2 separate regions of the Homo sapiens genome follow, and region 2 is linked to region 1. The links come from fine-mapping of genetic effects on gene expression. A gene starts in region 1. The other region holds a variant in brackets. All regions are shown on one strand. Distances are from middle to middle. Region 1 holds the start of FCRL6 (Fc receptor like 6). Region 2 holds the start of SLAMF8 (SLAM family member 8).

Region 1 (5,375 bases):
AGGTTGGGAGGAAGGGTCTGGTCTTTAAGTCTTCCTGACCCACACTGCTTACAATAGCTCACCTTCACCGAACACTTCCTACTTGCTAGGCATTGGTCTAAGCCTGCAATATCCAAGAAGGCAGACACTTGTCACATGTAGCTGCTTAAATTTTTTAAATTTCAACTAAAGTAAAAACAATTAAAACTTCAGTTTCTCTGTGTCATGAGTCAATTTCAAGTGCTTAATAGCTCTCTGTGGCCACTGAACTGGATAGCCCAGAAAACATTTCATCATCACTGAAAGTTCTATTAGATCTTGCTGTCTGAGAGCATCTTATGTTTTTAATCTTGTTTAACCTTCATAGCAACCCTATGATGCAGGTGTAATTATGTATCCACTTTAGAGATAAGGACCCTGAGACACAGACTGGTTAAAAAACTTACCCAAGGTCTCTCACCAGATTCATATCCAGAGTGAGGATTCAAGCTCAGATATTTGGCTCTAGGGCCTACCATGCAGAGCTGTCCCCTACCCCAAGCTCTCTTGCTCTCCCGTCTCGCCTCCGGAACTGGAATGACTTATCCTGTTCCCCAAAGGCCATTGTCCCTGACTACTGCCGCCCTGACAACTGACTCTTTGAGTGATGAGAGCACCTGGGCCTGGAGCCTCTTCTGGATGAGGATCCACACTCTATTTTCATCCCACCTCCTTTTAGCCCCTGAATTCCCTTAGAGTATTAGTGTTAGTATCATGGGTTTTAATATCTCCACTAACCCATCCCATTCTCAGTTCAAGGTCAGCCTGAGTCCTGGAAGATTCCAAACCTGGGCAGCAGCCCTGTTGCTGTTCCCTGAGGGTCACCTTCATCCCCAAGGGAACAACATGCAGCCAGCTCAGCTCAGGCTCAGCTCACCAACACCTTTGAAGGTGCAACAGCATCTCACTCTGCAGGGGAAGTGCGAAAAGTCAGATGCAGTTCACACTCTCATGCCGCTAGAACCCGGTAGAAGTTGCCAGGGCAGAGGCTTCATCCGTTCTGTGTGCAAACCACAAATGTTTGCAAGCTAGACCACTTGCGGTTATCCCCTCTGTCTCCTGCCCCAGCTGCTGCCCTGCAGGGACTCCACACACCCACAGGACCTGCAGCTGAACGAAGTTGAAGACAACTCAGGAGATCTGTTGGAAAGAGAACGATAGAGGAAAATATATGAATGTTGCCATCTTTAGGTGAGTGGACAAGATTTCTACTTCCTACTTTACTTCCTCACTACTTTTCCCTCTTTCCTAAACAACTGAGTCACCGAAAAAAATGCCTGGCAGTGTCAAATTAGTTTCCCACTTCCACTGAGTCAGACAATCTAGGGCAAGAAAACTTAGAAAATTCTCTCTGTCCATTCCTGGCCTCAGCAATAGGCACATCAAATTCCATCAGACTATGTAGAACTTCTCACTTAAAGATTTCCAGGAAGAACTTTACTGTCAGAAAATGCTTAGCCAGGCATGGTGGTGCATGCCTGTAATCCCAGCTACATGGGAGGCTGAGGCAGGAAAATCACTTGAACCTGGGAGGCGGAGGTTGCAGTGAGCCAAGATTACACTCCAGCCTGGGCAACAGAGCAAGACTCCTTCTCAATAAAAAAAAGAAAAAAGAAAGAAAAGAAACAAGAAAATGAAAATGCTTCCTAGTATTTTGCCTGACTCTGTGTTTCACCGTGAACTCCCATGTTCTGTCCACAGAGGAGATGAGAATGTGTGACCTCTTTTTCTGTTGAGGGAACATTGAATAATTTCCAGTTTTTATCTATTACAAATGATGCTGCTATGAGCACTCTTGTATATGTTTTTTCAGGCTTATATGTATACATTTCTGTTTGACATTTACCCAGGAGTGAAAATGCTGAGCCATCAGGGATCCCTGTGTTTAGTTTTGGTAGATTCTGCCAAGCCATTTTCTAGTGACTGTACCAATTTATATTCCCACTAGTGGTGTACAAGAGTTCTAGTTTCTTCACATCCTCACCAATACTCAGTAGAGGATTGCATGGGGAGGGTCACGGGCTCCCCCAGACCCAGCTCAGTCTCAGCTGGTATCACTCCCTTATTCTTATGGAAGGTGTAGTGGTATCTTATTATGGTTTAAATTTGCATTTCCACGGTGATTTATGATGTCTAGCTCCTTTTGCTATGTTGATTTGACACGTGGATATCTGCTTCTGTGAAGTACCTATCCAATTATTTTTGCCCATTTTTCTAGTATGTTGTCTGTCCTTTTCTTACTGACTTGCAGAAATTCTTATATTTCTTCTGTGGGCCCTTTGTCAGCTACATGTATTTAAACTATCTCATCACACCACAGCTTGCCTGTTCCTTCTCTTAATGGTGTCTTTTAAGGAATAGTTCTCAAAATCATACTGACAGTCTTAAAAGCCTCAGATGCCGAAGCTCCATCTGTGTTCTACTCCAGACTCATCGATGTCTGATTCCCTCCTGAACTGAGGATCCTGTGAAGCATCCTCAGGGCTCCACTTCTCCATCGCATTGCAGCATCCACACACATTTACCTCTGGAGACAGGAGCTCCTTGGAAGCTGGGAGGTCACTCGGTGGTCAAGGGGTAGATGATCTTAGTTTTACAGTGCTGCGCTGTCTCCCAGGCTGAATGACGCTGAAGCCAAGCAAATTCGGGCAGTCTCTGGACCTTTCTAATGGAGGTGTCCCATAACCATGTTCCATCCTAGTTCCCTGGCATAGGCTTGTTGAAGCTGCAGAAAATGTCAGGGATTTATTAGTGATTTACCGACTCCTTCATACTTAGTGTTCAGGAAAATTTATTCATGTAATACTTCTTCAACCAAAGAGGAAATATCAATTAGAGCTTTGTAAGTTTCTTTTCCACTTCCTATTTTGGCTATCAAGCTATAGCACCACCCAGCTCAGGCCACCCACCCACCTTCGGTCCTGAGGCCTGGTTGCTCTCTGCCGGCTTCGCCCTGACCTGTTTCTGACCTGTGTTCCCTCCGCTGTGCCAGAACAGGCCCCATGCTGCTCTGGACGGCTGTGCTGCTCTTTGGTAAGTCAACGAGCATGGGCATCCCCTCTTGGAGCACTAAGGACCGTAAGTCATCCCTGAGACACCAAGTTCCTCATCTTACCTTTCCCAATTCCAGTGGGTTTGTGGCTGGAGCTCAAGACAGGTGTGTGCACCTGGGCATGCTTGGGAGAGATGGGCACTGGGGTAGGAGAAACTCCTCAGTGTTTCCTACCCCGTAGTCCTGGGTCCTTGGCAGCGCAGCCCTTTGATATGTCAGAGATAAATTAGGGAGGCAGAAAATCACATTACAAAGTCCCCTAACTTCCCAATGACATTTCTACCTTGTGACATCAGGTTAAAATACTAATCAGAGCTGTCTCAAAAGGAAATGGAGGTTGCAGGAGGGAAGGAGGCTGCTGGGGGCAACAGGGAAGGAGTCAGGGAAATGAGGGGAAACAGTCCCAGGCATTTTGCTCAGCAATGGGAGGTGGAATTTTACAGGGTGACATATTTTTATGGAGCCTCAGCATTTTCTTAGAACCAGGTAACAATGGCCAGACCTCTCACCTGGTTGAAAGGCCTGTGCTCTGAGTAACCAAAGCCCTTTTCAAATTGACTGTCTCTCTTCCGCCTACATCTTCTCTCTGTTGGGAGCTGTTTCAGATCCATGGGGCTGGTTTGAAGAATCAACTCCATTGTCTGATCCATGTCTCTCTCTCTCTTCTCTCCATTTCTTCTCATGCAGGCTACTTGTAACTAAGAGAGCTGGTCTAAGGGTAGAGGATTGCACGCAGAGGGTCACTGGGCTCCCCCAGACCCAGCTCAGTCTCAGCCAGTGTCACCCCCCTTATACCTAAAAGAAATAATTTGGCATATATTTTGTTTCACTTTACAGTTTCCAAGTGGACCTACTTTTTGTTTAATTCTTGGTCCCAATAGCTTGCTTGCTATTTGTATTCCTTGAACTAGAAAAGCAAAACTGTTCCTAAATATAACCTCTTCCTGGACAGAGTTTGTGAGAATTTGACCCTGTGAGGAAAATGCCCCTTCCACTCAATGTTCCTTCTCCAGCATAGCATGCTACTCGTGTGTTCTATGAATGGCCATTTGGACAAATGAAAAGGTCTAATGCTCACACTGAGGCGGGGACAGGATAGCCTAATGCCTGGATATACTCCAGGCAGAAGACTCCCAGGGGCAAATGGCACTACCGGCACTACCTTGTAAAAGGAACAGCCCTTGGACTTGTCTAGATACAGTCTGAGAGTGTTCCAGCTTGGAACCCAGGACGAGGATGACAGACAGCAAATGAGGAGAGGAAGGGAATCAGTGACCGGCTGACTGGTGCACAGTGTAATGGAGAATCCAGCACCAGCAAATTTGGTCCCACTTGATGCTCAGGGACCCTGGAAAAACAGCCTAAAACACAGACACTGGGGCTGGGTGTGTAGCAACATTTATCTTACCATAAGTGTAGAGCTGCTATTTCCTCTCTCAAGAGCAGGGTGTGGTCATAATAAATTGGTGGCTATTACTATTATTGGCTGTCAGGGCTCCGGGAGGAAAGGAATCCTGACATTGAGCATGTGGGGACCTGGCTGAATGTGAAATATGTATTTAAAGTTTGGGAAATTAGGCTTAATTTTCTTCTGAGCTGAACATTAGCCAACTTCCCTCCTACCACTGGAGGCTGCTCCCCGCATTCTCACACAGCGTCCATAGGAGGTGTCATGGGGTCCCATACAGCCCTCCCAGCAATGTGACTGCTGCAGCTTGGCACTGCAGCCTGTTCCACAGTGCTAGAGCTCAGTGGTGAGAGAGTTCTTCATGTTGAGCCGAAATCTGCCTCCATGATCCCTCTAGTTTCCATTTCTGTCCTATAAAGTAACTCAGAATAAGTCTCCCCCTTCTTTTAAGCTTAGCCCACCAAGTATTTTGTGTCTTTCCTCTGTTGCATCTTTCCCAGATAAATATCTCCCGATCCCTCAGAAACTTTAAGAGGAAATTATCCTGCTCCTAGAGTTGGCAGGGGCTCCTGCCTTCATTTTTCGGAATTCTATTACGCAACTTGGTTTGACCATAGCTCTTGGCCACTTCATGATACTGTCACCTCATCTTCAGCCTATAGCTAATGGAGGTCCCTGGGCCCTCATTGCAGGAACTGCTGTAAGCAGGTGTCACCCCCTGTGTATGTTCCCAGTTGGCTGCTGTTTTGATTGCAGAAACCAATTTTGTAATCCCACCTCCAAGATCTTGCAGTACCATGGGGAGCAAGTCATTGAGATTTGGGGACAGGAGCTCATTTTAAGTGCATCTATGCTTCCTGAGTGCCTTCTGTCTTGTTTTTGGCTTCAGTAGTCTCA
Region 2 (5,375 bases), 25 kb after region 1:
CAGAGGAATTCGGGACCTGGCTCCACATTGGCCCCATACCTGCATCCCACAGCCCTCCCAGTCCTAGGCTTTGACATTTTAGAATCATTCAATTCAATCCAACAGATGCATGGAGGGCTTTGCCTCATCGAAAGCCTGTCCTTGGCAATATACAGGGTGCAGAAATGAAGGAGATCCCTCCCCTCATGGAGCTCCCAGTCTGGGAGCAGAGAGTCAGAACAGGGGACTGCCCAGCCTGAAACATGCCTTTATCTGATTTACCCAGGTTTCCCCACTTCCCTCTCCCTGGCCATTTAGTAGCAATAGTTAGTATTTGAGTGCTAACTGCACCCGACCCCAAGTTAAACCTTCACATGTGTTCATTGGCAGTACTAAGAGGTAGGTATTGTTATTGCTCCCCATTTCACAGATGAGGATACTGAAGCACAGGGAAGTTACTTGGCTCAAGGTTTCACAGCCAAGATTTGAACTCAAGAAGTCTGAATCATGCTTGAGTTCTGAACTCCTACCCTCATCTGATTGTATTCTTAAGTCTCACCTCAAACACCACCCCCTCCACAGAGCCCTCCCCAGACCCCCACCTGCCCTGGCAGGGTCAAAGGTGTCCTCCGGCTCTCACAGCCTCCAGGGCACACATCTGACATTGTTCTTGCTACACTGGTTATAATTATTGGTTTATATATACCATCTTCTGTGAACTCCTTAAGGTCAGGGGCTGAGCCTTTCATCTCTGTGTCCCTAGGTCCTGGCACCTAAGTAGATGCTCAATAAATGCCTGAGGAATGAATGACGGAATTGGCAATGGAGTCGTAAATGAGTTCCCTCCCTTGCCCTCTCCACCCCCATGACAGGCAGCTTCCCAGTTCTGCCCTTTCCTCAGTACTCTAGACATTTCCTTCATATGCAGTCCCTTCTCCTTCTCACAGGACCATCACAACAGACAACAGCTGTTGTTCAGGTTCCCTGGCCCCTTTGTTCTCTCCAACCTGCCCTGCCTGCTGTCCTCCCACTCCTACTTAAAACATGCAACAGCCCCTCTCTTCAAGCAGTGCTTCCGGAGCGGTCCCCCAGTCCACCAGCCACAGACTCACGCTGAGTGGGGTGCTTGTTACAACCACAGATTCCTGGGCCCTAGCTCACCCTGATGGCATCTCTGAGAATCCAAGTGCTGAACACAGTTGAGAGCCACTAGTCTCCAGAAGAACTTAACCCAGTTTTCAAGGCCTCCACAATCTGCCCCCAACCTCCTTTTCCATTCTTCCCACCCAGCCCTAAAGGATTCCTGTCTGCTGTCCCTTGTCCTCTGTGGAGCCTACTTGGTATTTTCCCACAGCCACATCCCTGCACGCTCTGCTCTCCCCTCCTGCCCAGAGCCCACCCCCAACCTCTGGCTCTCTCCTTTCCTCATATTATCTAAACCATGCCCATCTTCAAGGCACAGCTCAAATTCCACCTTCTCAAGAAGCGTCCCCTGCCCAGATCCGCGAAGCCCTCTTTCCCACCCACTTCTGAGGACTGACTACCTGTTTGCACAAAGTGGTGTCTGTCTGCAGATAACCCTTCACTTTCCTTGGTGTACCTATCTCTACATTTTGGTTGTGAGTACCTGGAGGGCAAAAACCTTATCCCAAAATCCTCCTGCTCACCACCCACCCCCACCCCATCCTATATGCCTAGTTCCTGGCTGAGTCCAAAGCTCAGTGTCCAGTTTGATTGACAGGCGAGAGGCTGTGCAGGACCAGATACGATGAGCCACACTCCAGACTAGCAGGAATTTTCCTCAGGGGCAACACGTCCTCTAAAAACCTTCACTGGCAAGAAACCAAGAAACTTGAAGTGAGAAGAGAAACAGGATGAGGAGGGGATAACTGTGGCAAAATAGACCACACTTCAAAGGCTGAGGTTCAAGTTCCAGCTCTGCCTCTCTGTGAGCTCTGCAAGGGGCCTAACCTCACTCTGGTTTTCACATTTTCCCATTTCTAACCAGGTAACAAGATGATCCTCTCAGAGGAGAGTTGCAAGGCTTACATAAAGCCAGATGTGTAGCCATGTCTAGAATGTACTCACTCACTTAACAAATACTCATGAAACATCTGTAATGTGCCAAGCACTGAGGGCAACACAGAAGGGAACAAAAGACTGGCTAAACAGTCTGTGAAAACCAGAAAACTGTCATCAACAACACAGCAAGAGTAAAGAGGGAGGTGTGGGCATGCACAGGACACAAGGAGAGGGCCTCTCACCTGCCTGTGGTCAGGAAGCCTGGAAGGATGTCCTCGCCGACTGCACAGCCATGTTCTGTTTGCAAGGATAGAGGGAGCAGCATGCCTAGTCGGGGTGGTGGGGAAAGTACAACACAGGGAAGTGTGAAATCAGTAGTTCTGAGAAGGAGGCCTTCTGGCTTGGGATGGCTGGAGGGCAGAATGACTGTGGGCGACCAGCCTGGAGAAGAAGGCCTGACTCAGGAGGGCCTGCATGCAGAGCAGAGTTAGTCCTCATCCTCAGGTCCACGGGAGGCCACAGAAGCATTTTAAGCTAGAATGAGGATGACAGATAGTAGTGAGGCAGGCTGAGATGCAGGAAGGCCAGCGAGATCCAGCAAGGAGGATGTGGCTTGTGTGGGGGCTGTTGTC[G/A]CCACGTGTTAGCCAACCATGTGCATGTGAAAGAGGCTGACTTACAAGAATCTGCTCCTGTAAGCCCAGAGAGGCCCAGGGACAACTTCCACTTTATTCTGGATGTTTTCACTTTTGGGACATCCTGTTCTGAGTCAAGATTCCTCCTTCTGAACATGGGACTTTCCAGAAGGACCACAGCTCCTCCCGTGCATCCACTCGGCCTGGGAGGTTCTGGATTTTGGCTGTCGAGGGAGTTTGCCTGCCTCTCCAGAGAAAGATGGTCATGAGGCCCCTGTGGAGTCTGCTTCTCTGGGAAGGTAAGTGGGGCAGGCAGATAGCCTGTCCTCGGAGAGCTGAAGGCCCCTCCCCAGCTGCCTATGCCAGACGTCTGGGCAGGGATCCCTCGACCTGGGTGAGAACCCAGAAGCTGAGGGTGGGTAGGAAAGACTAGAACAAGCTCTTGGGCAACATTTTAAGCTAGGCAGATACAAAGAGATGCAGGGTCCTGGGAGGGAGGAGGTGGCAGCTTGAGGGGTATTCTTATCTGTGAGACATGAGCTGTTTTGTGGCCCAGAGCAGTAAAAACGGAGCCAGTGGGTGATACTGCTGGTTTGGAGAGAAAGTCGGCTGTGAGAATGGTGAGGACCCGGCAGTGTTAGCATGCAGAAACTCTGCAGAGTTTGAGGAGAGTAGCAGAGGGCAGGGCAGAGCAGGGTTCCCCACAATCAGCAGAGTGTGTTTTCAACAGCCTGTGGGGGAGCTGAGGTCCCTCCCTACAGGCCTTTATAAGGGGAGGCAAGTACTAAGTAGGGATGAGAGAGGCTAAATGTGGCCCACGTGGACTTAGGGGTGGCCGACGGTGGTGTGATGTTGGGATGGCTGATACACGGGGTCTCCTCCACACCGGGCGATCCCTCTATCCATCTGATGCCTGAGTTCCCTTCCTTGGTCAACAAGCAGCCAACATGACATGGGTCAACACTGCCGGGCCATGGATGAGGGTTTATGGGGTGCAGCAAAGATTAAGATGATATTGTTTACATCAGAGGCTCATAGGGACTTTGGGTTGCTTTGTTTCATCTCCTTGCCTGAGTTCCTGGCCCTGAGAGCTCCAAAGCCTGCAGATTTCTTCAATATTTCTAAACATGTGCAGGAAATCACACCTTAACCTCAAAAAAGGCCTTGGTCTGTTTGGTGAGACAAAAATAATTTGCCTTTTTTTTTTTTCTTTGAGACGGAGTCTTGCTCTGTCACCCAGGCTGGAATGCAATGGTGCATCTCAGCTCACTGTAACCTCTGCCTCCTGGGTTCAAGCGATTCTCCTGTCTCAGCCTCCTGAGTAGCTGGGATTACAGGTCACTGCCACTAAACCCGGCTAATGTTTGTATTTTTAGTAGAGACAGGGTTTCATCATGTTGACCAGGCTGGTCTCAAACTCCTGACCTCAAGTGATCCGCCCTCCTCAGCCTCCCAAAGTGCTGGAATTACAGGCATGAGCCACCACACCCAGCCCAAAAATAATTTTTCAAATGGCCCTTAATGATCAAAGATCTGTGTGACTGACCTGGTACAGACCCCTTATTTTTCAGTGGTACTGAAGCCTGGGGCAGGGTGATGTGTGGAAGGGCACACAGCTGATCTGTGGCAGCACCAGGAGGAGCAGGTAGGAGCAGCTAGGTCTTGGCTGACATCCAGTGCAATTCTCTTTGTGTGTTACATTCCTGCTCTGCATTAACACTGAAGTCATCTCCAGTGTGAGAGGAGGTTGTTGGGCCTGGAGGACAGTGAGGCAGAGGGGGACCGGAATTATCATGGCCGACTGAGCAACCATCCAGATCATGTCTCATTGACCAAAACTTCATCACCTCTTATTCTTCCCTACACCCTGTGCCAGCGACAGGCATAGGGTCAGTCCTCAGCAGGGTAGGTCATTTATTCAATACCATTTACTAGGCTTCTCCCACAGTCTGTTCTTAAACAGTGGTGGGCACTGGAAGCAAACGATGGGGAGAAAGAGCTCACGGTCTAGTGGGAGATGCTGACTCATAAACAGGCAATAAGAATAGAGGGATAAGGGTAGTCAGCATGGTGGCCCCAGGCCACTGTGAGAACACAAGAGAGAATATGTAACCTCTCTTGGTTACATTACCTATGAGGGATAGGGGAGGTCGGAGGAGGCAGTGATGCTACAAGAGTGGGCAGAAATTAGTCAGCAAAGGAGTCAGGGGGGCACTTCAAGGAGAAGCGTCTCCCATACACGTCTGACTCAAATATAGTCCCCCAAAACAGCATCTTGCTTTCTCACCCCCTGTCTGTTTCTCCTCCTGTTCTGGATCACAGAGAATAACATCCAGTGGATCCCAAGGACCTGGGAGCCGTCCTCGACTCCTTTTTCTCCTTCACTCCCCAGAGCTAATCTATTACCAAATCCTACTGATTACACACCATCTTCGTGTTTCTCAATTCCTCCCACTTCTTCCCATCCCGGTTGCTCCCTTCCTCAATTCAAGTTGCCGTCACTTCTCCACTGGACTAACATGAACAGCCTAAGTCCTGCCCACCTCCAGTGCATTCTCCACATCCCTGCTGGAGTGATCTTTCTAACCATGCATCTAATCCTGTTACGCTCCTGCTTAAAACCTACCTGAGACGCCCCATTGCTCTACAGATAAAGCCCAAACTCCAGTATTGCTTTCAGGTCTCTGCATGATCTGACTCCTACCAACTCTGCAGTGTAATTTCCTACTCCTCACACAGAGA

The links. PIP is the estimated chance that this variant, and not a neighbour inherited with it, causes the effect.
Region 2: its variant is fine-mapped to the expression of FCRL6 in whole blood (INTERVAL, PIP above 0.99).

What each region holds. Positions count from the first base shown.
Region 1 is chr1:159,799,405-159,804,779 of GRCh38, forward strand. It overlaps FCRL6 (Fc receptor like 6), which reads left to right and starts at 2,956. Exons shown (of 10, transcript NM_001004310.3): 1 at 2,956-3,051. The coding sequence starts at 3,021. It overlaps LOC105371464 (a long non-coding RNA gene), which reads right to left. Exons shown (of 3, transcript XR_922195.2): 1 at 3,134-5,375; 2 at 2,544-2,743; 3 at 1,077-1,158.
Region 2 is chr1:159,824,007-159,829,381 of GRCh38, forward strand. SLAMF8 (SLAM family member 8) reads left to right here and starts at 2,867. Exons shown (of 5, transcript NM_020125.3): 1 at 2,867-2,932. The coding sequence starts at 2,893. The variant G/A (reference allele first, on the strand shown) is at 2,634.